Regions from separate parts of the Homo sapiens genome. Here all the other regions are linked to region 3. The links come from fine-mapping of genetic effects on gene expression. A gene starts in region 3. Each other region holds a variant in brackets. All regions are shown on one strand. Distances are from middle to middle.

The links.
Region 1: its variant is fine-mapped to the expression of OAZ1 in whole blood (INTERVAL, PIP 0.99).
Region 2: its variant is fine-mapped to the expression of OAZ1 in whole blood (INTERVAL, PIP 0.96).

Annotation. Positions count from the first base shown.
Region 1 is chr19:2,364,055-2,374,301 of GRCh38, forward strand. The region is part of intron 1 of TMPRSS9 (transmembrane serine protease 9); the gene reads left to right. Among named protein-coding and RNA genes, the nearest start is that of TMPRSS9, 8.9 kb to the left of the region's middle. The variant C/T (reference allele first, on the strand shown) is at 4,891.
Region 2 is chr19:2,224,265-2,234,072 of GRCh38, forward strand. It overlaps DOT1L (DOT1 like histone lysine methyltransferase), which reads left to right. Exons shown (of 28, transcript NM_032482.3): 26 at 1,124-1,188; 27 at 1,919-2,863; 28 at 5,521-8,314. The coding sequence ends at 5,528. It overlaps PLEKHJ1 (pleckstrin homology domain containing J1), which reads right to left. Exons shown (of 6, transcript NM_018049.3): 5 at 9,734-9,797; 6 at 8,889-9,641. The coding sequence ends at 9,576. It overlaps MIR1227 (microRNA 1227), which reads right to left; the gene lies at 9,798-9,808. Among named protein-coding and RNA genes, the nearest start is that of MIR1227, 5.0 kb to the right of the region's middle. RefSeq lists an enhancer at 1,599-2,105. The variant C/T (reference allele first, on the strand shown) is at 5,203.
Region 3 is chr19:2,265,361-2,275,607 of GRCh38, forward strand. It overlaps OAZ1 (ornithine decarboxylase antizyme 1), which reads left to right and starts at 4,126. Exons shown (of 5, transcript NM_004152.3): 1 at 4,126-4,384; 2 at 6,025-6,170; 3 at 6,422-6,594; 4 at 7,375-7,460; 5 at 7,612-8,128. The coding sequence starts at 4,239. The coding sequence ends at 7,748. LOC105372240 (a long non-coding RNA gene) reads right to left here and starts at 3,893. Exons shown (of 2, transcript XR_936242.3): 1 at 3,742-3,893; 2 at 3,133-3,512. PEAK3 (PEAK family member 3) reads right to left here. Exons shown (of 4, transcript NM_198532.3): 4 at 9,271-10,247. RefSeq lists enhancers at 1,160-1,329, 3,825-4,439, 7,177-7,236, 7,247-7,306, 8,747-8,886 and 1 more and silencers at 3,693-4,182, 5,148-5,207, 5,418-5,617, 5,628-5,967, 7,507-7,656 and 1 more.

The DNA of each region.
Region 1 (10,247 bases), 99 kb after region 3:
ACCTGTAGTCCCAGCTACTCAGGAGGCTGAGATGGGAGGATCGCTTGAGCCCGGGAGTTGGAGGCTGCAGTGAACTGTGATCACACCACTGCACTCCAGCCTGGGTGACGGAGTGAGACCCTGTCTCAAATAAATAAGTGAATGAATGAATGAATGAATGAATGAAAGACGCATAAATAGAAGAAATTTAGAAGCCCAAGAATGAAGCTGAGGCGAACCTTGGGGTTTTATTGAAGTTGATGGTTGACGCAGCCCTGCAGGCTGTTCTAAGCCATTGATGTTTCTGTGTGTTGCTCTGAAATGGATGCAGAGGATAACATATTCTGGGTGATCCACTCATAACTGCATAAGGCTTCCTTTGTTGTTGTTGTTTTGCAGAGATGGGATCTCACTATGTTGATCAGGCTGGTCTTGAATTCCTGGGCTCAAGGAATCCTCCCACCTTGGCCTCCCAAAGTGCTGAGATTACAGGCGGGAGCCACGGCACCCAGCCCTTTGTTGTTTTGTTTACACTTTACCTTTATGAAAAAAAAAATTGGGGGGGATAATTTTAGTTGTGAAGATGGTGCAGAGAGTCCCCGCACACCCACCTTCCACCCAGTGTCCCCTTGCGTTGACACCTTTGACCACAGAACAAAGAGCAAAACTGGGCCGGGAACGGTGGCTCACGCCTGTAATCCCAGCACTTTGGGAGGCTGAGGCGGGCCGATCATGAGGTCAGGAGATCGAGACCATCCTGGCTAACACGCTGAAACCCCATCTCTACTAAAAATACAAAAAAAATTAGCCGGGCCTGGTGGCGGGCGCCTGTAATCTCGGGAGGCTGAAGCAGGAGAATGGCGTGAACCCGGGAGGCAGAGCTTGCAGTGAGCCAGGATCGCGCCACTGCACTCCAGCCTGGGCGACGGAGCGAGACTCCATCTCAAAAAAAAAAAAAAGAGCAAAACTGACGCACGACTGTGGGTGCCACACTCTGTCTTCCCACCAATATTTCTGTTCTACGTTGCAATCCAGGATCCCACATTGCATTTAGGAGCTGTATTAATTTTAAATGATACAACTCATAAGTGATTGGAAGGTTATTTTTTAATCTCTGCGTTTTCCTCTGGGTCCCTTAGTATCACTCATGTTTATCGGCGTCTTCCCTCCCACACGATTACTGACTCCTTTCTCCTCTGTCCACATTATAAAGCTAAAAGAACACAAGATACCATTGCTGCAAATAGTTTTCTCACAAACACCTCTTCCCATGAAAGCCTAACAAAAAGACCATAGACAAAATGAAAAAAAAAAGGAGACCAAGCTTATTAAATTTCCTGTAGGCTTGCTGAGTGATTTATTTCATGATGTTGGGGCGATGGAGGAGGGGAGGATTTCCTGACTAGATTCAGGCCTGAGGACAGGGGACAGGAAGAAATAAGAGAGGCCATGGCGTAGACAACAGCTGTCTGTTCTATAAACGGGCTTTGGCTGCCGTGGGACCAAAGATGCGGAATCGAATGGGATGGACGTGTCCGAAAACTGTGATCATCTTGGATTAGGTGAAGGAAAAAACAAACAAACAAACAAAAAAAACAAAAAAACTACACAGACAGGTGGGCAAGACAGCTAAAGAGCCCAGACCGAGGCTGGGGGCATGATGGTGCAGGCTTGTAGTCCCAGCTATTTGGGAGGCTGAGGCAGGAGGATCACTTGAGCACAGGAAGTTGAGACCAGCTGGGCAACATAGCAAGACCCCATCTGTACAAAAACTAAAAAAATGAGCCAGGCATGGTGGTGTGCACCCATAGCCCCAACTATTTAGGAAGCTGAGGTGGGAGGATTGCTTCAACCCAGGAGTTGGAGGCTGCAGTGAGCTGTGATAACACCACTGCACTCCAGCCTGGGTGATAGAGTGAGATTCTGTCTCAAAATAAATAAATAAATAATTTTAAAAAAGAGATGGAGAAAGAGAAGAGAAGAAATTTAGAAGCTCAAGAATGAAGCTGAGGTGAACCTTTGGGTTTTATTGAAACTGCTTGGAAAAAAAGGGAACCCCCTGAATTTCTCCTTGGAGAGGTTGAACCATGGTTTTGAGCAACTAGAAAACATTGGCCATTAAAAGCAGAGAGTGAGACCCTGTCTCTACCAAAAATTTAAAAAATTAGCCGGGTGTGGTGGTGCACACCTGTAGTCCTAGCTACTCAGGCGGCCGAGGTGGGAGGATTGCTTGAGTCCAGGAGGTTGAGGCTTCAGTGAGCTGTGATAGCATCAGTGCACTCCAGCCTGGGTGACAGAGTGAAACCCTATCTCAAAAACCAAAAAAGTAAATAAGGAACACCAGACAGAAGAGCCCTGGGACCTGCCGTCCTGTGTATTAGTTTTTGGTTACTGCATAACAAATGTCTCTCAAATTTAGCCAATTAAAACAACAGACATTTATTCTGTCACAGTTTCTGTGGGCCAAGGATTTGGGAGTGATTTATCTGGGTGGTTCTGGCCCATGGTCTCTCATGAGGTTGCAGTTAAGACATGGGCCAGGGGCTGGGTGCGGTGGCTCACGCCTGTAATCCCAGCACTTTGGGAGGCTGAGGAGGGCAGATCACAAGGTCAGGAGATCAAGACCATCCTGGCTAACACGATGAAACCCCACCTCTACTAAAAATACAAAAAATTAGCCGGGCGTGGTGGCGGGCACCTGTAGTCCCAGCTACTCAGGAGGCGGAGGCAGGAGAATGGCGTGAACCCAGGAGGTGGAGCTTGCAGTGAGCCAAGATTGCGCCACTGCACTCCAGCCTGGGCGACAGAGCGAGACTCCATTTCAAAAAAAAAAAAAAAAAAAAGACATGGGCCAGGGCTGCCTCATCTGAAAGCTCGTCTGGGCCTGGAAGAGCCACTTCAAAGCTGGTGTCCTCATGTGGCTGTTGGTGGGAGGCCTCAGTTCCTCACCACATGGGAATCACCATAGTGCTGCTCGAGCATCCTGACAACATGGCTGCTTGCTTCCCCCAGGGCTGGTGATTCAAGGGAGAGAAAGAACAAAGCCATAGTGCTTCTATGATCTAACCTCAGAAGCCTAGATCCATTGCTTCTGGTATATTCTATTCATTACAAGTGAGTCAATAAGTCCAACACACACTCGGAGAGGGAAATTAGGCTCTGCTAGGTGAGGATAGCAAATAATTTTTGGAGATATTTAAAAACCACCACATCTATAACCTTGGGCAAGTTACCTAACTCTTCGGTGCCTCCAATTCATCTTTGGTCAGAATAGAACCAGTCTCATAGGAGAAATGTGGCAATAAATGAGATGATGACTGTAAATATTGTTTAATACAACACCTGTCACATAGAAAATGCTTATGTACTTTTTTTTTTCAAGATGGAGTCTTGCTCCATTGCCCAGGCTGGAGTGCAGTGGTGGAAACTTGGCTCCCTGCAACCTCTGCCTCCTGGGTTCAAGTGATTCTCCTGCCTCAGCCTCCCAAGTAGCTGGGATTACAGGTGTGCACCACCATGACTGGCTAATTTTTTTTTTTTTTTTTTTTGAGAGGGAGTCTTGCTCCGTCGCCCAGGCTAGAATTCAGTGGCACGATCTCAGCTCACTGCAAGTTCTGCCTCCCGGGTTGACACCATTCTCCTGCCTCAGCCTCCCAAGTAGCTGGGACTACAGTCACCTGCCACCATGCCTGGCTAATTTTTTGTATTTTTAGTAGAGATGGGGTTTCACTGTGTTAGCCAGGCTGGTCTTGAACTCTTGACCTCAGGTGATCCACCCACCTTGGCCTCCCAAAGTGCTGGGATTACAGGCATGAGCCACTGCACCCAGCCCATGACTGGCTAATTTTTGTATTTTTAGTAGAGACAGGGTTTTACCATGTTGGCCAGGCTGGTCTCGAACTCTGGATCTCAAGTGATCCACCTGCCTCAGCTTCCCAAAATGTTGGGATTATAGGCATGAGCCACCATGCCTGGCTTTATCCACTTACTTTTATTAAAGGTATATTTTTCAGTGTTACAGCTCTTGAGGAATGATGTGCCAGCTATAGTTATCAAATTGTAACTCTCTGGATTTGTGGGGCCGGAGAGGCAGAGGGAAATAACTTGCTCTTTCAGGAGGCATTAGGCTACGGAACGGAGAGACTGCACATGGCGGCTGCGTTTTTCCTGGCTCCCCTTTTCCAATGGTTAAGGGAAGACAAATGGGAATTAAGCAGTTCCAGGCTCTGCATGTGGCAGAAACCATCCTACCATCTACTCCCATGGGTGCAGTTTGCAAAATTTGAGAGACCAAAAAAAAAAAAAAAGCAGAGAATGTGAAGGGCACATTAGGGTATAGCTGAGGATGTCAGGCAGGAGACACAGCCTGTGCCTTTGAAGGCACTGAGGCTGGACCATGCTGTGCATGTTTGGGGATCGGCGAGGAGGCCAGTGAAGCTGGGGCTGAAGGAGGGAGGGGTTGGAGATGAGGACAGTTAGACCCGGTCGCTGTGGGGAGGTTTGGGCAGAGGTGGGATGTCACCTGACGCGGGTCTTAGCTGTCTCCCTGAGGCTTCCCGTTGAGAATAGACCCAGGGAGGGGAAGATGGAAGTGGCATTTTGTGAGCCTGGGCGATGCCCTGCTTAGACCAGGCTAGACATGGCGTAGGGGCCCAATTCTAGAGCTACCCTGCAGACGGTCTGACAACGTTTTTGGATGGACTGGGTTTGGGATGTGCCAGGGCATCAAGGATAAACCCAGTTTTTTTTTTTTTTTTTTTTTTTTTTTAAAGACAGAGTCTCACTCTGTCGCCCAGGCTGGAGCACAGTGGCGCAATCTCAGCTCACTGCAACCTCCGCCTCCTGGGCTCAAGCAATTCTCCTGCCTCAGCCTCCTGAGTAGCTGGGATTACAGGTGTACGCCACCATGCC[C/T]GGCTAATTCTTTTTTTTTTTTTTGAGACAGAGTTTTGCTCTCATTGTCCAGGCTGTAGTGCAAAGGTGTGATCTCGGCTCACTGTAACCTCCACCTCCCGGGTTCAAGTGATTCTCCTGCCTCAGCCTCCAGAGTAACTGGGATTACAGGCGCCCACCACCACACCCAGCTAATTTTGTATTTTTAGTACAGATGGGGTTTCACCATGTTGGCCATGCTGGTCTCAAACTCCTGACTTCAGGTGATCCACCCATCTCCCAAAGTGATGGGATTACAGGCGTGAGCCACTGTGCCCGGCCAAACCCAGGTTTTAAAAAAAATTTTTTTGTACCTGGGTGAGTACGAAAGTGGAGCTGCTGTCTGAGCTGAGAAGACTGTGGGAGGAGCAGGCATTTTTGTGAAGAGGAGACTGAGGAGGGATATGAGAGCTCAGTTTGGTCAGTGTCAAATTTAAGAAGCCTGTTAATGATTGTATTAGCTTTTGTTTGTTTAAGACAGGGTCTTGCTCTGTCACCCTCACCCAGGCTGCAGTGTAGTGGCTTGATCGCAGCTCACTGCAGCCTCAACCTCCTGGGCTCAAGTGATCTTCCTGCCTCAGCCTCCCAAGTAGCTGGGACTACAGGTGTGTGCTACCACCCTGGCTAATTTGTAATTTTTTTTTTTTTTTTTTTTTTTTAGAGATGGGATCTCATTATGTTGCCTACACTGATCTCAAAGTCCTGGGCTCAAGCGATCCTCCTGCCACAGCCTCCAAAAGTGCTGGGATTACAGACCTGAGCCACTGCACCTGGCCTAGTTTTCTGCAAATTACCACAAATGTAGCAACTTGAAACACCTCCTGTTTACTGTCTCATGGTTTTGTGGTTTCTGTGGGTTGGGTGGCTGGGCATGGTTTGGCTGGATCCTCTGCTCAGGGTCTGACAAGACTGCAGTCAGAGTGTTGGCTGGGCTGTGGTCTCATCAGAAACTCAACTGGGGATGCCCAAATGCAGTGGCTCATGCCTGTAATCCCAGCACTTTGGGAGGCCAAGGCTGGCAGGTCACTTGAGGTCAGGAGTTCAAGACCAGCCTGGGCAATATAGCGAAACCCCTTCTCTACTGAAAATACAAAAATTAGCCGGGCATGATGGCGGGCACCAGTGTAATCCCAGCTACTTGGGAGGCTGAGGCAGGAAATCACGTGAACCCAGGAGGCAGAGATTGCATTGAGCTGATATTGTGCCACTGCACTCTAGCCTGGGTGACAAGAGACTTCATTTCAAAAAAATATATACACATCCTGGCTAACACGGTGAAACCCTGTCTCTACTAAAAATAACAAAAAAATTAGCCAGGCACAGTGGCGGGAGCCTGTAGTCCCAGATACTCAGGAGGCTGAGGCAGGAGAATGGTGTGAACCTGGGAGGTGGAGCTTGCAGTGAGCCAAGATCACGCCACTGCACTCCAGCCTGGGTGATAGAGTGAGACTCTGTCTCAAAAAAAAAAAAAAAAAAAAAGTGGGTAGGTTGGCCAGATGTCCCAGGTTGCAGGCTACACCATGCCTGGCTCATTATTTTTATTTTTTGTGGAGATGGGGGTCTCGCTATGTTCCTCAGGCTGGTCTCAACCCCTGGCCTCAAGTGATCCTCCCTCCTTGGCCTCCCAAGGTGCTGGGATTACAGGCGTGAGCCACCACGCCCAGCCAGAAACTTGGGTTTAAAATGGACTTTGCATTATAATGAGATGGGTAATTCACCCAGGATGAATCCAGCCTTCAGCTTTTGCTTTCTTTTGCTTTTGCTTTCTCTCTCTGTCTCTCTTTATATATATATTGCCCAGACTGGACAACATTGCAAGACCTCGTCTCTACAAAAACTTAAAAAAAAAATTAACCCAGCGTGGTGGCATGCATTTGTAGTCCCATCTACTCGGGAGGCTGAGGCAGGAGGATCCCTTGAGCCCAAGAGTTCAAGGCTGCAGTGAGCCGAGATCATAACACTGTACTTCAGCCTGGGTGACAGAGCCAGACCCTATCTCAAAAAGAAAAAAATGCATGACAATATTATGTATCTTGATGACCGAGGTTTTTGGAACTCACTTTAATTTTTCTCCCAGGGCCAATACCTACCTCCTGTCACCCTACTCCCTGGCCCCGGATGTCCTCTGCGAAGGCTCTGAGCCCACAGCTCACTCCTGTTTGAAAACAGACACTGGCAGGTCTCAGAGTGGCATTAAGGACACGCTGGCCCTAAACCAAGACTCTCCCCAGCTGGCCTCATCTGGAGGCTGGAAACAGACATTGCTATTGCCTCGTTCACAGTCGCTCACTCGTTCACAGTCACTCGTGGCTCTGCTAACAAAGTCCTTGCCTAGTCCCTCCTTGGGGGCCCCCACACGGCTCCAGATGGTTCCTGACAGATGAAGACGGAAGTCGGTAGGTTGGCCAGATGTCCCAGGTTCCAGGTTAAAACTGGAATAGCTGCCGGGCGCAGCGGCTCACGCCTGTAATCCCAGCACTTTGGGAGGCTGAGGCAGGCGGATTGCCTGAGTTCAGGTGTTTGTGACTACCCTGGGTGACACAGCAAAACCCTGTCTCTACTAAAATACAAAAGAAAAAAAAAATTTAGCTGGATGTGGTGACGGGCACCTATAATCTCCGCTACCTGGGAGGCTGAGGCAGGAGAATCGGTTGAACCCAGGAGGTGGAGGTTGCAGCGAGCCAACATCGTGCCACTGCACTCCAGCCTGGCGACAGAGCAAGACTCCGTCTCAAAAACAACAAAACCAAGAAAAAAAAAAAACAAAACTAGAATAGCCTTGAGCAAACCAGGGCCAGGACAACTGGTCACCCCAAAGCAAACTGACTCACTGGGTGACAGGGACTCTCACCCCATCACCACCGCGTTGGGATGAGTCGGACTTCCTGCCTCCCGCCTGGGCCAGAGGATGCCGAGAGAGTGGCGTCTGTTGGGCTGGAGGCTGGTCGAGCCACAGGCTCAATTTGGAGACATCAATGCTGATGGTTCATGATTTTGGTGCGATCTCGGCTCACTGCAACCTCCGTCTCCCGGGTTCAAGCTGGGATTATAGGCGCCCGCCACCATGCCCGGCTAAATTTTATATTTTTAGTAGATGGGGGCCAGGCTGGTCTCAAACTCTTGACCTCAAGTGATCCGCCTGCCTTGACCTCCCAAAGTCTGGGATTACAGGCGTGAGCCACTGTGCCTGGCCCCTTCTTTTTTCTTCCCTGTATCTTGGTGCGCAGTTCAGATCTGAGATCCCACGTCCATTCTTCTCGAAGCTTTTTCCTGTCACGCAGGCGGGCGAGTCTCCTCCTACTGATCTCTTTGGTTTTACAGCTACACACTTTTCTTTTTGGTTTGCCTGGGGGCATTCTCACATATCTCTCAAACCCGGCCAGTAACACCCTCCTACGTTGCTTTAAAAAAAAAATAAATGATGCCTCTTCTTGTCAAGGGCTTCCTCCCACCTCAAGGTCACCTGTCAACCTCCATGCCCACTCTTGTTTCTCGAAATGGGCTATCTTCCCTCCTTCTACCTGTGTATTTCATTCTCTCCCACCCCCAGTCTTTGGAAAAAAAGATAATAAAACTCTAGAAGATATTTTTACTCTGAGATTAGCAGTGTGAAGGACCTTCCAGAACCTTCTCTCTCTGCCTTTCTCTGAATTAAAACGCTCGCTTGTCTGAGACCGGCTGTCTCCATTGCATCTGAGTGATAAGAGAAAGATTCATTGAAACAGGCAGGTTTTATTTTTGGTCTGTCCAGCACTAAATGATTTTCTTTTGGCTGACTTATTTTTTTTTAACTCTAAACAGACTTTGCAGCTTAGTAAGAATTTATTTCAATTTAGAAATATGGGTGTTCTAAACTTTTTTTAAATTAAAAAAATTTATTTTTTCCTGAGACAAAGTCTTGCTCTATCACCCATGCTGGAGTGCAGTGGCACAATCATAGTTCACTTCAGCCTTGACCTCGTGGGGACAAGTGATCTTCCTGCCTCAGCCTCCAAAGTAGCTGGAACCACAGGCGTGCACCACCACCCCTGGCTAATTATTTTTATTTTTTGTGGAGATGGGGGTCTCGCCATGTTGCTCAGGCTGGTCTCAACCCCTGGCCTCAAGTGATCCTCCCTCCTTGGCCTCCCAAGGTGCTGGGATTACAGGCATGAGCCACTGCGCCCAGCCAGAAACTTGGGTTTAAAATGGACTTTGCATTATAATGAGATGGGTAATTCACCCAGGATGAATCCAGCCTTCAGCTTTTGCTTTCTTTTTTTATTTTTATATATTTATTGATTTTTGAGACACAGTCTCACTCTGTCGCCCAGGCCGGAGTGCAATGGAGCAATCTGGGCTCACTTCAACCTCTGCCTCCCGGGTTCAAGTGATTCTCATGCCTCAGCCTCCCAAGTAGCTGGGATTACAGGCACGCCACCACACTTGGCTAATTTTTTGTATTTTTAGTAGAGATAGGGTTTTGTGATGTTGGCCAGGCTGGTCTCAAACGCCTGGCCTCAAGGGATCCTCCCACTTTGGCCTCCCAAAGTGCTGGGATTACAGGCGTGTACCACCATGCCCAGCTAATTTTTGCATTTTTAGTAGAGACGGGGTTTCGCCGTGTTGGCCAGGGTGGTCTCGAACTCCTGACCTCAGGTGATCCACCCACCTCGGCCTCCCAAAGTGCTGGGATTACAGGCATGCACCACCATGCCCAGCTAATATTCGTATTTTTAGTAGAGACGGGGTTTCGCCATGTTGGCCAGGCTGGTCTCGAACTCCTGGCCTCAAGCGATCCACCCGCCTCAGCCTCTTAAGGCGCTGGGATTACAGGCATGAGCCACAGTGCCCGGCCAACTTTTGCTTTCTTTGCCGTACACGTGGCCTAGGGAGGTTGCAGCTTGGAGGTTTTCAGCCAACTTTTTGCGAAACTAATACACACCATGCTGATTTATTCTTTAGGAAACTTGTCAGCTTTTCACTGAAGCAACAAATGCTTTTGTCTGTACCAACTATTTGCAAAGTGCTTTACAGGGAGATCTGAGCAAGGCAGAGAGGTAAAGAAGGCTCGTGTCTATCCTTGAGGAGTTGAGAGGAGTCTAGAAGTTTCTGTACATTGGGCAAATCTGGGCAGTGCTTTATAACATTTTCCCGAGCTACAGAGCTCTGACCCCTCCGCGGCTTCACTGCTTTTCAAGCTATTACATCAGCACCAAAGATTCCTTTTTCTTGTATTCACGGTGACAAGGAGAGGCTCAAAGTCCTGCCTGTCCATTAATTTCATGCTGATTTCTCTCAACAATCTTTTTTTTTTTTTTTTTTTTTTTTTTTTTTTTTTTTTAAAGAGGTAGGGCGCG
Region 2 (9,808 bases), 41 kb before region 3:
TTTCCTGGTGCCTGGGCGGAGGTGCTGGGTGGCCCGGCCCCCTGGGCTCTCCAGCAGCCACACCATTCCACCCTGCCACCATGGGTGCACGAGGGTCTGAGGTCCTCAGTCCCCACATCCTCAACACACTGAATTTCTTGTTTTGATTCTAGCCATCCGAGTCGTCGTGAAGTGATATAACATGGTAGGGTTTTTTGCTTTTTTTTTTTTTTTTTTCCTGAGACACAGAGTTTTGGTCTGTGGCCCAGGCTGGAGTGCGGTGGCGCGATCTCGGCTCACTGACCCTCCGCCTCCTGGGTTCAAGTGATTCTCCTGCCTCAGCCTCCTGAGTAGTTGTGTCTACAGGCACACGCTACCACCGTGCCTCGTTCGTTTTTTTGTTTTATAGAGATCGGGTTTTGCCATGTTGCCCAGGCTGGTCTCAAACTCCTGGCCTCAAGCCTTCTGCCTCCCAGTGCCTCCCAGCGTGCGCCATCACAGCCGGCCCTAAGTGTGCTTTTGGTGGTGTTCTGTGTTAGTTCGTTCTGCTCCTTGCCCACGTGTGCGTGCACGTGTTACACGAGAAACATTGTAGCACCTGGATGCTCTGTTTTGCATTGGGATTGCTCAGCTTAGTGGTTTCCAGGATCTTTAGGAATTTGTGTGTCCCTGGTGTGTTCTTGGGACATTGGATCAAAGCGACCCCATGCAGTGTGTGGTTGGGCATGTCTTCACGTGCTGGCCTGCAATGCTGTGGCATTGTTTGCCACCTGAGGCACCGAGGTCTGAGAGGGGCCGGGAGAGGGAGGTAGGAAGAGAGCTCTGTCTGGGATTCTCACACTTCTGTGTGCTGGGAAATTGCTTCTCCCATTCAGCTGCTGTGCCTGATCTCTTGGCTGCTTGTCCCAGCAGAGGCCCTGGAGTCCCTGCCAGGACAGTACCCTTGTGGCACAACAGGGGTGGATCCCAGGGCCCAGCCACCCAGTCCAGGCCTGGCCCAGGGTGGCTGCACGGGTCCCCTGTCTGGGCCGAGTGCTTCTCGTTCACCACCTCCGGAGCTCCCTGGGCTGTTGGCTGTCAGCATTTGTGTCATTCTTAGTATGCAGCTGGGTTTCAAGCATTAATGACCTTTTTTTCTTAACAGAATTGAGAGAAAAATTGCAACAATCTCCTTAGAAAGCAAATCTCCCCCGAAAACCTTGGAAAATGGTGAGTAACAAGTGTTTTGCGGCGTGGCCAGGCCTGTCCGTGTGGCCGTGGTGCCCAGTCAGTGCTGCTGACCCACCTGCTGGCCCGCTGCATCGTGTCCCGCATGGTGCTGGCCCGCTGCGTCGTGTCCTGCGTGGTGCTGGCCTGCTGCGTCGTGTCCTGCGTGGGCGCCGACACTGGGGGCGCTGGGCTTCCAGAACTGCCTCTGGGAGGCCCTCACTGCAGCCCAGGGCCTCCGCGCACACGCCATGCTCTCACAGTGGGTGGCTGACCTGCGGGGATCGTCACCTTGGGTCCCCTGTTTGCTTTGCACCCTGGCCTTCCCCCCGAGTGGTGCCTGCGTCCTCAGTGAGGACCCTGACCTGCTCTGGGGCAGCCCCACCTTCCCTCCCGCAGGCTGCTGACCTCAGCATTTTCCCCAGAGCTCATCCCGCATGGCCTCTGAGACCCGCTTCAGCTGCCTCTGTCCTGTCTTCCGCCCTCCTGTCCCATCCAGTCCCGTCCCCTGCCATCTCATCCTGTGCTGTAGTCCTCCTGTCCCATCCCATCTTGTCCCCTCCCGTCCCCTTCCCTCCTGTCCTCTCCCATCCTGTCCCGCTTGGCATCTTGAGTGTCTGTGACCAGCCCTGCCTGCAGAGTTGCCCGGGCCGTGGCAGCAGCCCCGGTTAGCCTCATGGGTAGCCCGGGCAGGTGCTCTGGGCTCACGGCTTCTGCCTTTCCTCTTTGCCAGGTGGTGGCTTGGCGGGAAGGAAGCCCGCGCCCGCCGGCGAGCCAGTCAATAGCAGCAAGTGGAAGTCCACCTTCTCGCCCATCTCCGACATCGGCCTGGCCAAGTCGGCGGACAGCCCGCTGCAGGCCAGCTCCGCCCTCAGCCAGAACTCCCTGTTCACGTTCCGGCCCGCCCTGGAGGAGCCCTCTGCCGATGCCAAGCTGGCCGCTCACCCCAGGAAAGGCTTTCCCGGCTCCCTGTCGGGGGCTGACGGACTCAGCCCGGGCACCAACCCTGCCAACGGCTGCACCTTCGGCGGGGGCCTGGCCGCGGACCTGAGTTTACACAGCTTCAGTGATGGTGCTTCTCTTCCCCACAAGGGCCCCGAGGCGGCCGGCCTGAGCTCCCCGCTGAGCTTCCCCTCGCAGCGCGGCAAGGAGGGCTCGGACGCCAACCCTTTCCTGAGCAAGAGGCAGCTGGACGGCCTGGCTGGGCTGAAGGGCGAGGGCAGCCGCGGCAAGGAGGCAGGGGAGGGCGGCCTACCGCTGTGCGGGCCCACGGACAAGACCCCACTGCTGAGCGGCAAGGCCGCCAAGGCCCGGGACCGCGAGGTCGACCTCAAGAATGGCCACAACCTCTTCATCTCTGCGGCGGCCGTGCCTCCCGGAAGCCTCCTCAGCGGCCCCGGCCTGGCCCCGGCGGCGTCCTCCGCAGGCGGCGCGGCGTCCTCCGCCCAGACGCACCGGTCCTTCCTGGGCCCCTTCCCGCCGGGACCGCAGTTCGCGCTCGGCCCCATGTCCCTGCAGGCCAACCTCGGCTCCGTGGCCGGCTCCTCCGTGCTGCAGTCGCTGTTCAGCTCTGTGCCGGCCGCCGCAGGCCTGGTGCACGTGTCGTCCGCTGCCACCAGACTGACCAACTCGCACGCCATGGGCAGCTTTTCCGGGGTGGCAGGCGGCACAGTTGGAGGTAGGCAGGGCGGCCGTCCGTCCGCCCCCCGCCCCGGCCCCCGCCGGAGGCCCCTTCCTTTGCAGGTTCCCTTCCGCACTCTCTTGCAGCAGGAGCTGAGCTGCAGGTCCCCTGGTGCCGGCCGGCCCCCGCCATCCGTGCACGGTGGCGAACTCCAGTCCTGTGGGGAGAGGGCTCACGCTGAGTCCGTGTGTCTTGGGTTCTCTGGTTGTAACCGCGTCCCTCTTGTTTTCAGAAGGCCACCGTGCGCAGGGCCACCAGAGCATTACTTTCTCCCGTGGAGGTCACCTGCTAGGTGTGGCCGCCCGGGCTCTGGCAAGGCTCTGGGAGCTGGTGTTGGGTAAGAGCGAGTCCCCGCAGTGCCTGCCCAGACAGGGCGGAGAGGAGCCGCCGGGGGGAGCGGCCTGGCCCTGGGGCTGCTGCGGGGCGGGGGGCCGGAGGGCGGAGGGCGGGCCACCACGAGCCTGGCCGAGCCGCTGCTTGTGCTTGGTGCCCGCACACGCCTGGCGGCGCCGTTTCGCTTCCCTTTTTGTGAGCCTGCGGCTGCTGCTCTGCGCTTGCCTGGATGCTGCCGCTTGTTGAAGCTGCGTTTTTCTCTCCTATTTGCAGGTGTCTTTAACCACGCGGTGCCCTCCGCCTCTGCTCATCCGTTTGGAGCCCGTGTCGGCCGCGGGGCTGCATGTGGCAGCGCCACACTGGGCCCGAGCCCGCTGCAGGCGGCGGCCAGCGCCTCGGCCTCTTCCTTTCAGGCCCCGGCCTCGGTTGAGACCCGGCCGCCCCCTCCGCCTCCGCCTCCGCCTCCCCCGCTGCCCCCGCCTGCGCACCTGGGCCGGTCCCCCGCGGGGCCGCCCGTCCTCCACGCCCCCCCTCCACCTAACGCCGCCTTGCCTCCTCCCCCAACGCTGCTGGCCTCTAACCCTGAGCCCGCGCTTCTGCAGAGCCTCGCGTCCCTCCCGCCTAACCAAGCTTTCTTGCCCCCCACCTCTGCTGCCTCTCTGCCGCCTGCTAACGCCTCTTTGTCTATCAAGCTCACCTCCCTCCCGCACAAGGGCGCCCGCCCCTCCTTCACGGTGCACCACCAGCCCCTGCCCCGGCTGGCCCTGGCCCAGGCCGCGCCCGGGATCCCACAGGCCAGCGCCACGGGGCCGTCCGCGGTGTGGGTGTCCCTCGGCATGCCGCCTCCCTATGCCGCGCACCTTTCGGGGGTTAAGCCGCGATAAAGACCTTGCTTAGCTAGCAGTGCGTATTGTGTAAGGTAAGGCCAGAGCCCTGCGCGGTGGCTCACTCCAGACACTGAACTGTCCTTCCTTTGGCAGAGAAGACGGCCACAGGGCTCGGCAGAAGTTCCGGGGGTCCTGAGGAGGGAAGAGGGAGAGAGCCAGGGAGACCAGGGAGATGGTCGCGAGAGGAGGGACTACAGGACGGGCACCAGCCATGGAGTGGCCTGAGTGTGTTGGGTTCCAGCTGCCCGCAGCTGGGTTCCTGCGGTGACGCCGCAGGACTGAGGCCAGCCCTGGGGGCAGCTGTGCCAGCCCCTGTGGGCGAGGCTCACGGGGTGCCAGGCCAGGGGGCTGGGAGCTCTAGCTCCTAGAGCAGTCTCCAGGGCTCCATCCGCACCAGGCCCAGGTCACTCATGACGGGTGGCGTGGCTTGGTGCTGTTCCCCAGGCGCCCAGCATGTAGCAGGCACGGTGCCGGCTGCAGAGGTCCTGGAGAGCCAGGGTGGCTGGCTGGATGCCTCTGGTCGGGGCTGTCTGGCCAGTAGCCTCGGATGCCCTCATAGGGAGCCAGTGAAGCCCCAAGTGCCCTGCCTGCCTGGGGGCTGATGGGTTCCCGGCGGGGTCGAGAGGCAAGCTCTGTGCCCTGCGTGTTGAGGCCCCCTTGCTGGACACGGCTGATGGCCACACTGCCCTGTGGTCATGGCCCACAGCCGAGGGGCTTTCAGCTGCTCAGATGTCAGCACCAAGCTGGGCAGGTTAGTGTAGACGGTGCCCACCTTTGAGACCAGAAGGAAGTTGGAAGCAGGAGTGATTTTGATGATGTGAGGCCTTCAGGGAATGTCCTGTTCACTCCTCCCCCAAGAGGCTGTGGAGACTGTGGCCGCTGACCCCTGAGGGCAGTTGGCCACCCGTGCCCTCCAGGGACATGGCGTGCCTGGCGGCGTAGTGCAAAGGTGCCCTCTGCTTGCCCCTGGCCTTCTGCCTCAGGGGCCCCTGGGACACAGGCCTTCCTGGGCGAGTCCAAAGCCCACCGGGCAAGGAGAGGAGGACTGGGAGCCAGGAGCCAAGGCGGAGGCTGTGGCCAGGGCTGGTCAGCCTGGCGGGTCAATGCGGGCACCTG[C/T]GGGCTGGACAAGCTATGCTGGGTCTCTTAGGAGATGAGCTGCAGGTAGGGTGGCTTTAGCTGGACTCGGCTGTGTGTCTCCTTTGGAGGAAGGCTGGAGCTTGGCCGGCGTGTCCAGGTGTCAGGCTCCCTGGTCTGTCACGGGGCACGCCCGTCGTCTGTTGTGGTTAGAGGAGCTGGCACTATGCCTGTCATGGTGCTGGCCCCAGGTGGCGTGTGTGCTCGTGGGAGGCCTCGGTCCCCAGCCTGGGTGAGTGTTGGGCTCCCCCAGGCGCGATGGTAACCTCAGGCCGCTCTTCCCGCTGTGCCCTTCTGCAGGTAACTAGGATTTCTACCTCAACCGCGAGACCTATGCAAGGACGGTGTGGACCAACTCGCGCCCGCGGCATGGTGCCCGCCGGCCTGCCGGGCTCCCACCCCTGGACGGCAGAGGCAAGGACGGACGGGAGCTCCACTGTGAATCGGCGGCACGCGCCGCAGGAGGCTGGGACTGGTCCAGTTTGTACTGTCGATAGTTTTAGATAAAGTATTTATCATTTTTTAAAAAGTATAAACAATTCTGACTTATTTTATTCCATCTAAGTGGTAAAAGGCAACTTATTGAGAAATATAAATATCTATATATGAGAGCTCTATATAAAGACACGTGTCTGCAGGGCGGGCCCGCCAGCGGATTCGCCACAGCCTGCCCCGGTGCTATCTCGTCCCCAGGCCCGCGCCTGCCTCCACCCGCTTGGTGCTGACTAGACGCTGACAACGCCGAACCCCGTTCTCGGAAACGCCGCCCGGCCGGCTCCCCCGACGCGCTGCTCCCGTACCAAAGGCAGGCCCGTCGCCACCACATTCCTCGGAGGCCTCCCCGCGGCCTGAGCCCCTTCCTGAGCGCCCTGGCGCCTGCCCTGAGCTCTTCACCTTTACCCCGGCACTGTGAACCCCCAGACTGTTCACCCTCCGGGGCGTGGGTTGCGCCCTTGCATGTGAAGGGGCCTGCGCGGTGACGCAGCTGGCCATGTGCTGCGCGATGGTGCTGTGAGGACGGCGCGGGCACGTTGAACAAGTGCATTTACTTTTGTATTTCTCGGCTGTCCATGGCTCGCAGCATGCCCTGCGATGCGGGGCAGGCCTGTCGTGGGTCCCTTGGTGTTTCTGTACAGGAGAGAGTCACACTAATGAGTGGCAGTATTTTATAGAGATGTGATGAGAATTTATAAATTTCATAGATTTGACAGCTTTTATTTTTAGATGGTATAATGCACAGTGAAGAGGAAAGAAAAGCGAGGGGAAAAAACCTTATTTATTCAAACAGTGCACAAAATGGCCCCAGCGTCAGCCCCGACCCTAGACCCCTCAGTTGCAGCTCCCAGCAGCCCAGACAGAGCTGCCGGCGCCCCTGCCTGCCCCACATCCCTTCCTGTCAGGGCCACGCCTGGCACCCATCCCTTGGAGCCTGTGCTGGTTCTCCCAGCTGCTGTGGGTGTGCTGGGGCCAGGGTGCACTGCTGAAACCTGGCCTCTCTGGCCCTAGGCCCCAGGGTGACGTCGGCCCCCCACTCTGCAGCCTTGGCGGGTGCCTGGGACTGGGTGTGGAAGGAGAGGAGCTGAGGCCGGGGTGTAGCAGGCAGGCAGGGCCACTCCAGTGCTTCTGGAGCCCTGAGCAGTCAGGGCCTGGGTTGTCTGAGCAGTGGTGGCTCTGTGCCCTCCCTGGAGGATGGGATCTGGGAGTCTGAGCTCCCCGCATCTGGCCCTGGGCTGTGTGGCACTTGCTGAGCCCACCTTCTCAAGTGCTTGCTCCTGTGAGATGGCATCGGGGAGCCCCTTCCCCAAGGTGCCACAGATCCACCCTCCAGGGAGCTGCCAGCCCTGTGTTCTGGTTCCCAAGGGCAGGATGGACACACGTCACATCCCTACCACGTGGCCTCCAAAGGGAGCCACGGAGGAAAGGCTTCTGTGGTTGCTAGGTGGGGGAGTCCTGTGTGGGAGGGCCTGAAGACCCCTGCTTGTGCCTGGTGAGGGGGGTGCTGCCTCCCCCAGCCCCCAACAACCTCTCAGACCCCCACCCTCCAACATAGCTGAGTTCTGAAGATGGTGCTCCGGACCTGTCCTCTTAAGTGGTGCCCAGTGCCCTCCCCACCCCACGTTGGTGCTCTCAGCTAGAAGGTGCTGTGCCTCTGCCTGAGCCCCAAGCCCCGAGCCTGGCCTTCAGGACAGGCAGCCTGCTCTGTGTCGCCACGGGCCGGATACGCCACAGGGTTGATGGCAGAGACGGCCGAGTCCCTGGTCTAGAACAAGACACATTCTTTAAACACTGTATTACTTCTGCCTCCCTCTAGGTGACAGTGGCAGTCCGGGTGCCATCACGGGTCCTGCAGATGGCCATGCAGGGCTCCTGCCCACGCAGGCCACCGTATGTTCAGGACACGCACTGGGTCTCAGAGCCACTGGCCCAGGCAGAAGTCTCCTTGAGCCCACTGGGTCATATGCGTGTCACCACACGTGAACTAGTGTGGTGGCTGCCTGCGGACACCCTCCTGTTCTGAGCCCTGGGCCTGTGTTCTTCTCAGACACTCCCAGACTGAGGGGTGGTGTGTGGCGGGTGGCAGGGTGGCTGTGGAGACTGGGGATCTGGAGCCTGGTGCTGGCACCTGGCCTGAGTTTCCGTGGGCAGCTGGCGGGGACCTGTGCTGCTGCTGCTGACTGTGGGTGGGCGGGCGGCGCCTGGGAGTGGCTCTTGCTCAGGAATTGATAGGAACCCTAAAAACTAGGATACCCCCTCCTCGGCCCATGAGGCACGCACAGTGACTTATTTAAGACTTCCCCCTTAATTTATCTGCCCCCAGGATGCGTCAGTCTGTTCAGTGGTCAGCAGGCCCCCCACCCCCCGCCGACTGCCCTCGCCATCGTGGTCAGACCCCCCTCCCAACACAACACGCTGCTGGTCTGTGTCAGCCTTTGTAACGTGGGAGGCTCTGCCGTGTCTTCCGGGTGAACTGTATTTGGATTGCGCGCATTGTCACGGTCCGCCCCTGGGCTGCAGGCGCCCCTTCCTCTGGGCACCCCTGCATTCTGCATCCCCACCTCTAGACGCTGTAATAAACAGACTGTTTTCACTCGGACCTGGTGTGAATGGCAGCCTTTCTTCCAGGTGGCATGAGGCGTCTCCTGGCGGCCAGTGAGAGGCCCCGGCTAGTGTGTCATCGCCGAAACGGGGAGTGGAGGGCCTAGGGGTGCTCCTAGCAGAAGCTCCGGGGGCTGACACCAGGACACCCTGGCCTTGGGGAGGCTTATGAGGGCACCAGGCCACAGGCAAGGGGAGGCTTATGAGGGCACCAGGCCACAGGCAAAGTGCCTTTTGATGAACGGAAAACCAGATCTGCGACCCCAATGACATCGGCAAAGTCCTTTTCACATCAGATGGACCAAAGCCCGCCCAGGCCCCAGCCACACTCCGGGAGGGCCCGTGAATGCCAGAGGCAGGACCCCAGGTCACCACAGGATTCCTGATACCACACAGCAGCTCTGTTCTCCCCAGGCCTGGGTCCCAGCCTCCACCTGTCCTGGCTGGGGGTTCTAGCTCTCCCCTCAGTGCAGGAGGCCCAGCCACTGCCTCTCAGGACCCTGAGCCTTACTTCCCTTGGGTGGGGGCTCCCTGGCTGCCCCTCCCCTCTCCTTCACTTCACCGCCATCCAGTGTGGAAAAGAGGTACCTTTATTTGAACAGAACAAGCACCCTGGCCCCAGGGCAACCACTTCCCCAGGTGCACAGCCAGGGCCCTCCTGTCTGCAGGAGAATTCACAGCTGGTGTGGGACTCAGCCCCTAGGCCATTCACAGCTTTGTCTGGCTCTGTACATTCATTCAGCACGGGGCAGGGGGGCCATGCCACCAGCCTGGGGGCTCACCAGGCCCCTGGATGCACACAACTCAGGCAGGGCACCTGTGGGAAGGCGCATATCCTGGCGGCAGCAGCACGTGGCACCAGGTGCCAGGCCAGTTAGGTGGATCCTGGGGCCCCAGGGAGCGCAGCTTGCTGGGCAGTTTCATAAAATGCAGCCCCTGCCCACACCCACCTGGCTTCAGGCTTTGGATGTCTCCAAACCAAAAACCTCCCACTGAAAATCCAGGTGTGATGGCCGGGTGTGGCGGCTCATGCCTGTGATCCCCGCTACTTGGGAAGCTGAGGCAGGAGGATCACTTGAGTCCAGAAGGTCAAGGTCACAGTGAGCTGTGGCACCACTGCACTCTAGCCTGGGCAACACAGTGAAACCCTGACCCAAAAACCAAAAACCAAAACAAAACAGATCCAGGCATGGCCAAGCGATTCATGGCTGGGCAGGGCCAGTCCCGTCCCGCTGCACGCTGACCACCGTGCCCTGCGCTCACGCCTGCAAGCCACTCAGCTGGAACCTGGCCTCCTCGGATATGCCGAACTGTTCCAGGGGGTCCTGTGGGGAGGACGGGTGGCCATGAGCCAGGGCTGGAGGACTGCCTCTGCCACCTGCAGCCCCACCCCGGCCCTCTGCAGCCCTGCACACACCTTGCCCGTCACCTTCCGGATTTCGTTCCTGTAGAAGATGAGGCTTCTCCGCATGAACTCGTAGCTGGGGAAAAG
Region 3 (10,247 bases):
TCAGCCTCCCAAAGTGCTGGGATTACAGGCGTGAGCCACTGTGCGCGGCCCCAATCCTTCTTTATTTTTACCTGTTTACATTTTATTTTATTTAACTCATTATTATAATTCTTTTAGAGACAAGGTCTCCCTCTGTCACCCAGGCTGCAGTGCAGTTGAGAGACCATAGTTCACTGCAGCCTTGACCTTCCTGGCTCAGGGGATCCTCCTGCCTCAGCCGCTGGAGTAGCTGGAACTACAGGTGTGCACCACCATGTCCCTAATTTTTAAATTTGCTGCAGAGATGGGGTCTGGCTATGTAGCCCTGGCTGGTCTTGAACTCCTGAGCTCAAGCGATCCTCTTGCCTCTGCCTCCCAAAGTGCACACCGGGCCCACATACCCTCTTTTAAATCAGAGTCAGCCGGGTGCGGTGGCTCACGCCTGTAATCCCAGCACTTTGGAAGGGTGAGATGGGTGGATCACCTGAGTTCAGGAGTTCGAGACCAGCCTGACCAATATGGTGAAATCCCGTCTCTACTAAAAATACCAAAATTAACTGGGCCTGGTGGCGTGAGCCTGTAATTCCCAACTACTTGGGAGGCCGAGGCAGGAGAATCACTTGAACCTGGGAAGGGGAGGTTGCAGTGAGCCGCCGAGATCATGACCCTGAACTCCAGCCTGGTGACAAAGTGAGACTCTGTCTCAAAAACCAAACAGCCAGGTGCGGTGGCACACCTGTAATCCCAGCACTTTGGGAGGCACGTAGATCATGAAGTCAGGAGTTTGAGACCGTCCTGGCCAATATGGTGAAACCCTGTCTCCACTAAACACAAAAATTAGCCGGGAATGGTGGTGCACGCCTGTAGTCCCAGCTTCTCGGGAGGCTGAGGCAGGAGAATCGCTTGAACCCTGTAGGTGGAGGTTGCAGTGAGCCAAGGTTACGCCACTGCACTCCAGCCTGGGCTACAGGTGAGACTCTGTCTCAAAAAAAAAAAAAAAAAATCAGTCCATCAATCAATCAATCAGAGTCATACTCTCTGCGTCCTCTGCCAGCAGCCGTATCCCCTCAACCTTGATTTCAGAAGAAAACCCAGGCATGGGCCCTCTATCCTTGACCACCCCACATCCTCTGCTGTCCCTTTCAGACAGTTCAAGCCTCACCACCTCCAGAGAAAGATATGCCTCTTTCTCTCCCTGCTGTCCGGGAGGCCCCTCACCAGTCACAGACTCCCCAGCTCCCAGCAAAGCACCTCCCACCCTGGGGAGTTTCTGGGGAACCCGGCCAGGTGGGCCAGCAGGGCGCAGTTGCTGATCCTAGCGCTCATCCCACGTGGCCTGGCCAGTGTGGGGGTGGCCCTTCTAGAAGCCTCACAGCATTGGCAGGCGGCCATCAGAGGCAGGCAGGAGGAGGAAGTGAGAGCTGCTGCAGTCAGGATGGAGGGATGGGGCTCCCTGGTCGTGGCTGTTCTGGAAATCGCACCGGTGACCTGTTCATTTCGAGCAGGCTCTTGCCTCTGTTCCCAGAGGAGGTCCTCAACTTAGGGGCGTCATTCTGCCCCCAAGGGACATTGGATGATGTTTGGGACATTTCTGGTTGTCATGACTTGGAGTGCTCCTGGCATGGAGTGGGTGGAGGCCAGGGACGCTGCTCAGTACCCTGCAGTGCCCAGGACGCTGCAGTCCAGCCTGGCAACAGAGCGAGACTCCGTCTCAAAAAACAAAAAAACAAAAAAAAAAGCAATCCACACCCTGAGTGGGGAAGGAGAGAGGAGAAGCATCCCAGGAGCTGGGGCCCTCCTGGTTCATACCATTTGCCCAGGATGCCCCACCCCAGAGAACAATCCAAGCCCAATGTCCACGGGTCCGAGGGAGGAGACCCTGAGTTAATTATTTGAAACAGAGTCTGTTCTCTGCTCACACCAGACACCAGAATAAACTCCTTTTTTTTGAGATGGAGTCTCGCTCTGTAGCCCAGGCTGGAGTGTAGTGGTGCAATCTTGGCTCACTGCAACCTCCACCTCCCGGGTGCCAGTTCAAGCAATTCTCCTGCCTCAGCCCCCTGAGTAGCTGGGATTACAGGCACGCGCCACCATGCCCAGCTAATTTTTGTATTTTTAGTAGAGACGGGGTTTCACCATGTTGGCCAGACTGGTCTTGCACTCCTGACCTCGTGATCCACCCGCCTCGGCCTCCCAAAGTGCTGGGATTACAGGCGTGAGCCACCGTGCCCAGCCTCAGGATAAACTCCTAATGGGGCAAACGGTATAAACCAGGAGGCCCCCAGCTCCTGGGATGCTTCTCCTCTCTCCTTCCCCACTCAGGGTGTGGATTGCTTTTTTTTTGTTTTTTTTGTGACAGAGTCTCGCTCTGTCACCAGGCTGGAGTGCAGCGGCGCCATCTCAGCTCACTGCAACCTCTGCCTCAAGGTGTGGATTTCAACGTGCGCAGTCTCCTGGGACCTCAGCAGGGCAGAGGATCATGGGATGCAGAGTCTCTTGGGGGGGTCCGTGGAATCCCCTAACTCGGGAGTCTCACCCAGGGTGATTCTGCCCCCGCCAAGGGACACTGGGTGATGTCTGCGGATACTTGTGGTTGTCACAACTGGGGGTGCTCAAGGCATGGAGTGGGTGGAGGCCAGGGACGCTGCTCAGCGCCCTGCAGTGCCCAGGGCGGCCCCAAATGTCAACCGCAGGAGTTAATTTCTGCCTCAACACCTGAATAGCGAATGCTCGTAGCAGAGATGCAACAACAGCCTTCTGGTGCAGTACGAAATCTCGAAAGACAGGCAGGCGCGGTGGCTCACGCCTGTTAATCCCCAAACTTTGGGAGGTCGAGGCAGGCGGATCACCTGAGGTCAGGAGTTCCAGACCAGCCTTGCCAACATGGTGAAACCCCATCTCTACTAAAAATACAAAAATTAGCCGGGCGTGGTGGCGGGCACCTGTAATCCCAGCTCCTCAGGAGGCTGAAGCAGGAGAATCGCTTGAACCTGGGAGGCGGAGGTTGCAGCGAGCCGAGATTGCGCCACTGCACTCCAGCCTGGGTGACAGCCAGGCCCGGTCGCAAACAAAACAAAATTAAAACCATGAAAGGAATCAGGATTTGCCAGGAGTAGCATTTTTGCTTGGTAAGAACAAAATTTTGTTTATACATGAAATAAAAAATATTTTATTAAACCTCACTGCAAAGTGGCAACTTTTTGCTAAATTCATAATTTAGTCTACACACAAGCTATGTACCCGTATGTGACTGCCAAGAGTTATATCTTTGCTTATTAAAAGCAAAGTGCAGTTCATACCTGAGATTTTTTTTCTGGATTTAACCAGGAGGGGAAATATTTTTGCTAGGTAAGTCCACATTTTACCTCACAGGCGAAACAGTTTACCGAACTTGACCACCAAAGAAATCGTTTTTTCCTTGGGAGATCCACATTTTAGTTCATACATGAGATGTGTTTCTGAATTTTAACTGCCAGGAGTAGTGTTTTTCCTTAGGGTAAGTTTCAGTTTCCACAGGAAAAATCTGAATTTATCTGCAAGGAGTAAAATTTTTGCTTAAGTCCAAATTGTACACGAAATATTTTACTAAATTTGAATATCTTTAACATTGGAAGTTCTTTTTTTTTAAACACTGGAAGCATTTTAAGAACTGCAAGACCAAATTTAAAAAAATAAAACCAGTAATATCATCGATGATTACCAGGTGTTACTGGAAATAATTCTGGCGCGGTTGGACAACCCCCCAAGCACCCGGGGGCCTACCCAGGGGAGGGGTCCCGCTGCGTGAAGGGACCCTAGGGAGGGCGACGTGGACCACGACAGACAAACGGGCACTCGAAGACCCCCGAAAATCGGCCCCAGCGAGCCGCCCCCGCCCCCAAGGCACGATTGTGGGGGCGGGGACGGCTCGGGGCGCGCGCAGCGCGTACCCGGCGCCACGGCAGCCCCGCCCCCAGAAGGACGCGCGCAGGAGGGGGCGTGGCCCGAGGCTCACCAACCAATCTCCAGAGAGCCTCTTCCTTTCCCTTTCCCTTTCACCAATCAGGCGCTGGGAGGGGCGGGCGCGACTTTTTTTCCCGGCGGCCCCGCGGCTCTGCCCCTCGTGCGGTCGCGTTCCCGGCGGCGCGGGGGGCGTGGCCTGGGCGCAGCATCTATAAAGGCGGGCGGCGGCAGAGGCGCCATTTTGCGAACGGCGAGCAGCGGCGGCGGCGCGGAGAGACGCAGCGGAGGTTTTCCTGGTTTCGGACCCCAGCGGCCGGATGGTGAAATCCTCCCTGCAGCGGATCCTCAATAGCCACTGCTTCGCCAGAGAGAAGGAAGGGGATAAACCCAGCGCCACCATCCACGCCAGCCGCACCATGCCGCTCCTAAGCCTGCACAGCCGCGGCGGCAGCAGCAGTGAGAGGTAAGTGCCCCGCCCCCGTCCGAAGCTTCCAGAAGCGCCGGCCGCGCAGGCCTGCGGGGGGCCGTCCTCGGGGCGCCAGATAGGTCCCCGGCGCGCGAGATCCGCCCCTTTGTCAAGGCCAGAATCGCGCCGGGGACGAGGTAGGCGCAGGGCGGGCCTGGAGGTCCCCCCCGGCCTTAGCAGTGCTCTCGGGGGAGTCGGGTTTGGGGGGCAAGGGTGCGGAGTTGGATTTGGGGGGCACCGTCCGGGGCGCCTGATTTGCGGGAGGGGCATGGGTCGGAGGTCGGATTTGGGCGCAGGACGGGGAGTCGGGGGAGGCGTGTGTCTTTTGCGGGGTTCGCGGGATGGGACTCGGCTTCGGAGGAGGGGAGAGGCTTCTGGTCGAGGGTTGGATTTGCGGGGCGCAGACTGGGAATTCGGTTTGGAGGAAGGGTGTGCGGTCGGGTCGGATTTGGGAGGCGCAGGATGGGGCAATCTGGTTGGGGGCGGGGTCGGCCTTGGGGGGCTGGTCCGCGGACAGGCAGGGCCCGCGGGGCTGGTGAATCTGCACTTTTCGGTCCCGGCCGTCGAGCGTGCGCTGCGGGAGCGGGGAGCGCTTTGCGGTGGACGAGCTCCCGCGGGTCCCTGTTGCCTCGATGTGGCCCCTGCACGCGACGGACCTCGTGGGCCCCGTTTTTCGCCCCTGAGCGAGTCGGTCTGGATGGCCCGGGACGCGCCGGGCGAGGCCGCGCACGTAGACGGCACCCAGGGCTTCTCCGCGGGGGCCGCCGGGGAGCTGGGGGTGGCGCACTCCGACAGCCCGGCAGCGCCCTGGGAAGACCCCCGCCGCTTCCCGGGAAGACGCGTCCCGCTTCCGGGGGCGCGGGTGCCAGCTGCGGTTGTGGGGGAGCCCGCGGGGTCTCGGTCGAGCTTTCCCGACTGCGTCCCCCGAGGTGGGCGTCGCTCAGCCCCGGATCGGGAGGTTGGGCCGCGGTGCTGGCGGTGCCGCGGTTTGGGGGCCGTGCAAAATGGAGGCAACTTTGGGGCCTGTTTACCCTGCGCAGCAAATGGCTGCTGGCGCTGCCGGCTGCGCGATTGTGAAAATCTCCCCCGGGGCGCGAGGCCGCGTCTGCCTGGATGACGCAACCGGGAGGGCCCGGGCCTGGAGCGGGGGCGGGGGGGCGGGCGGCCGGGAGCCGGAGCGGGGCGCGTCCTCCATGAGGTCAGGCTAGGCCCGCCCGGTCTTCGCGGGGACAAGCAAGAGTCCCAGATTTTGGCCGTAGTGCAGGGTGGAAAGGGGAAGCCGCGACAGAACTGAAAAGGGGAAGCGCTGGCTGTCTTGGTGGCCGGGGGGTGAGGCTCTGCCCCGGCGGGGCTGCGTGAGGGGAAGGGGCCCCCCGCCCTGGGAAGGTTGGGCTGTCCTGGGCGGCGCCGCCCGAGGAGTCGGGGCTCAGTGACTGCTGCCCTTGTAGGTGCTTGGGGCAGGCGTTGGAGCTGCCTTCGGGAAGCCTCGGGGGTGTGGGACCGGGTGGGCCCCTGCCTGGGCGGGGCGGGGTCTTTTGGCCGAGGCAGGGGTGGGGATGTGCTGAAGGCCGCCCGGACGCCCTGGAGGGGTCTCCGCCCGGAGCCTGGCGCTGCCTCGTGACCTGCATCATCTTCAGTTCCAGGGTCTCCCTCCACTGCTGTAGTAACCCGGGTCCGGGGCCTCGGTGGTGCTCCTGATGCCCCTCACCCACCCCTGAAGATCCCAGGTGGGCGAGGGAATAGTCAGAGGGATCACAATCTTTCAGCTAACTTATTCTACTCCGTGAGTATGGGGCCGGGCCTGCTGGGGCTGCTCTGGGGCCACAGGTACTTTCTTGTGCACCTTGCTGCCCGTACCTGTGATTGAATGTAATCGTGGGAACCCTGAGTTTCATCAGAGCCGGCGCACAGTCTCCTGCAGCCCAGGCGTTGCCTGAGCTCAACACGGCCTAGGCCCAAGCTTTAGCGCTGCCGGGTTCTTGGAGTCCTGTGGGGTGAGTCAGGGTTCTGAATTGGGCTGCACCCCCTGGACAGGATGATCGGCTGAATGTAACAGAGGAACTAACGTCCAACGACAAGACGAGGATTCTCAACGTCCAGTCCAGGCTCACAGACGCCAAACGCATTAACTGGCGAACAGTGCTGAGTGGCGGCAGCCTCTACATCGAGATCCCGGGCGGCGCGCTGCCCGAGGGGAGCAAGGACAGGTGAGGGGCAAGGACAGGCAGGGAGTGCTCACCCAGGGGAGCAGGGACCAGGTGAGGGGCAAGGACAGGCGGGGAGTGCTCACCCAGGGGAGCAGGGACCAGGTGCGGGTTGCTGCCCAAGGGGTGCAGGGACAGATGAGGGAGGGCACTGCCTTCAGGCAGCACATATGGGGGCCACCATCGCTTTGTTGGTGGGGACAGGGTCCCCCCTTTTTTTTTTTTTTGAGATGGAGTCTTGCTTTTGTTGCCCAGGCTGGAGTGCAGTGGCATGATCTTGGCTCACTGCAACCTCTGCCTTCCGGGTTCAAGCGATTCTCCTGCCTCAGCCTCCCGAGTAGCTGGGCTTACAGGCGCCCGCCACCGATGCCCAGCTAATTTTTGTGTTTTTAGTAGAGACGAGGTTTCGCTATGTTGGCCAGGCTGGTCTTGAACTCCTGACCTCGTGATCCGCCCACCTCGGCCTCCCAAAGTGCTGGGATTACAGGCGTGAGCTACCGCTCCCGGCCTGGGGTCCCTTTTTAAAAAGTGCACTCCAAATTCGTACCCTGGGATTCTACCCTCCAAGGGATGCCAGGCAGTGTCAGAGCTTTTCTGTCATGGGGCATGCACGTGGGTGGGTGCAGCGGTGCTGCTCAACACTGTGGTGTCAGGACGGCCCCACCCAGAGGACGATCTGGGCCCCAGGGGGACCCTGGAGTAGAGCGGGCCTCAGGGTAGCTGCTAAGGCCCAGGAGGTAGGCAGGTGGGTCGGGCCAGCCGAGACGCTGACACTCGCTGCAGCTTTGCAGTTCTCCTGGAGTTCGCTGAGGAGCAGCTGCGAGCCGACCATGTCTTCATTTGCTTCCACAAGAACCGCGAGGACAGAGGTAGGTGACCCGTATCGCCTGCAGTAGGGTGCGTGGGGGTGCCTGCGCCGCCCCTTCATTCTCAGCCCGCAGGCACGGTCTCCCTGCGGGGGTGGGGGGTGCGGGCGGGGGGTTCTGGTCGGCAGGGGTTCTGACGGCTTCTCCCCCGCAGCCGCCTTGCTCCGAACCTTCAGCTTTTTGGGCTTTGAGATTGTGAGACCGGGGCATCCCCTTGTCCCCAAGAGACCCGACGCTTGCTTCATGGCCTACACGTTCGAGAGAGAGTCTTCGGGAGAGGAGGAGGAGTAGGGCCGCCTCGGGGCTGGGCATCCGGCCCCTGGGGCCACCCCTTGTCAGCCGGGTGGGTAGGAACCGTAGACTCGCTCATCTCGCCTGGGTTTGTCCGCATGTTGTAATCGTGCAAATAAACGCTCACTCCGAATTAGCGGTGTATTTCTTGAAGTTTAATATTGTGTTTGTGATACTGAAGTATTTGCTTTAATTCTAAATAAAAATTTATATTTTACTTTTTTATTGCTGGTTTAAGATGATTCAGATTATCCTTGTACTTTGAGGAGAAGTTTCTTATTTGGAGTCTTTTGGAAACAGTCTTAGTCTTTTAACTTGGAAAGATGAGGTATTAATCCCCTCCATTGCTCTCCAAAAGCCAATAAAGTGATTACACCCGATGCACCTGGCTCTGTGGTGGTGACGCTGGGGACTGGTGGGAGGAGTGCCTGGGACCACAGAGGGCCCTGGGTGGAGGGGTCGCGGGGGATTTGGCACCCAGGCAGCTGCGGGACCCCTCCCACGGAGGAGACCCCCTGGGCTGGGAGGCCGGGCCCTCAGCTTGGCGCCAGCCTTGCCACTGCTCGCTTGAAGCCCCTTCCTGCCTCGCGTCCCCTTCCGCCCCAGCCTGGGCCTGCGCATGGGGATGTCTGTGCTCCCAACTCAACTTTTGAGTTCGCCGTGTTACTGGCCGCCCCTAGGGACCTGCAGCGCCGTTCGGGGCAGCAGCACTTCCGGCGGGGTCGTGGCCTGGAGCGCTTCCGGGTCTGCAACCCCGCCGTCTGCCCGGCCGCAGCGCCACCTGCCGGCCGCATCCGGGAGCGCCACCCGGAAAATCAGGGCCAGGCCTGGCCGGGAAACCGGCTGGAAAGAGGAGGAAAGGAGGAACTCGAAAAGATTGTAGACTTGGCGAGCGGGCCGGGGGGATATTCAGCCGTCTGAGCGGTGGTGGGGTCGGCCGGGAGGACAAACCTGGACACAGATACCCCCAGCTCATTTGGGCAGCGCAAATGCAGAGAAGGGGCATTAGAGCTGAGGCCATGCAGGATGAATAGGAGTATGAAGCAGAGTAGAGGGGGCTGTTTTCTGGTGTAAAAAACAACTTGGGCAAAGGCGTGGAGGCTGGAAAGTAACCTCCAGGGATGAACGACATGGGGTTGGAGACTCTGAGGAGACTTTGGAAGAGCCCTGTATGTATTCTGAGGCACTGGGGAGCCATGGGAGGTGTTTGAGCTGGAGAGGGACCTCATATCTGGGGTTGGAAAGATCCTCCCAGGACTGCCATGGGGAATGGAATGGAGGGGCAACTCTGAGTCTCCAGGAAGGAAGCCACAGGCAAGGGCAGTGCAGTGTGTCAGAGGCATAAAGGAAGACTCCATCCCCCTCCAGTGAGTCTCCTCTGTGCCTGTTTATTACATCATCCTGTGGTATTAAGTGAGCACCTACTGTGTGCCAAGCCTGGCCTTTGCCCCCAGGGAACTCACAGCCTTGTGGACAGTAACAGAGGAATAAATGCTCCTGAGAGTGGGCGGAGAACGCAGGGTAAGGAGCTAGCGATGGCCCAGAGTGGGCACCTTTATTTGTTTAGAGAAAGTGAAACTGTAGCCGGGCGCGGTGGCTCACGCCTGTAATCCCAGCACTTTGGGAGGCCGAGGCGGACGGATCACGAGGTCAGGAGATGGAGACCATCCTGGCTAACACGGAGAAACCCCGTCTCTACTAAAAATACAAAAAATTAGCCGGGCGTGGTGGCGGGCGCCTGTAGTCCCAGCTACTCGGGAGGCTGAGGCAGGAGAATGGCGTGAACCCGGGAGGCGGAGCTTGCAGTAAGCCGAGATCGTCTCAAAAAAAAAAAAAAAAAAAAAAGAAAAAGAAAGTGGAACTGGAACAGTATGGCAGAGGGAACAGCCTACACAAATGCTTGGGGGCGCGAAAGAAGTTGGTGTGTCACGGAGGAACAGGGAGGGAGGCAGGGTGGGCGCAGAGGGATTGAGGGGAGGTGGCAGGGAACCGCGGGGACTGTTTTAGGGAAGGTGAGTCCAGACCCCGCTGAGATGAGCTGGGTGTCTAAGGTCCCAGGGAGCCTTCCCTTCCCGTGACACCACCAAGCAATTCTCCACCAGGGACAGGGGCATTCACATGCCCAAAATCACTGGCCATCTTCAGCACAAGGGGGTGCTCCAGAGCCAGGAATGCCTCTGGTCCCGGCATTGGCCTCTCATGGAGACAATGACAGAACCCACGCGGAAGAGCGCCCTGGCTGCTGGGGAAGGCAGAACACAGAGAGACATTGATCAGCGGGGTTGTCCACACCTGGAAGTGGCGTGGGGGCCCTGGCTTCAGAGAGCTGCTGCCCAACACAGGAGGCGCTGGCCAGCCCCCAGCCCTGGAGGGGCAGCTGCATTCCTGGGAAGCCCTTGACCCACATCCCCAGCACGGGAGGGGAGGCTCTGGAGTGGGGCATTGCTCTCTCTGCTGCGCTCCTGGACTCTGCAGGAAGAGGGTGTCTTGGCTATCATG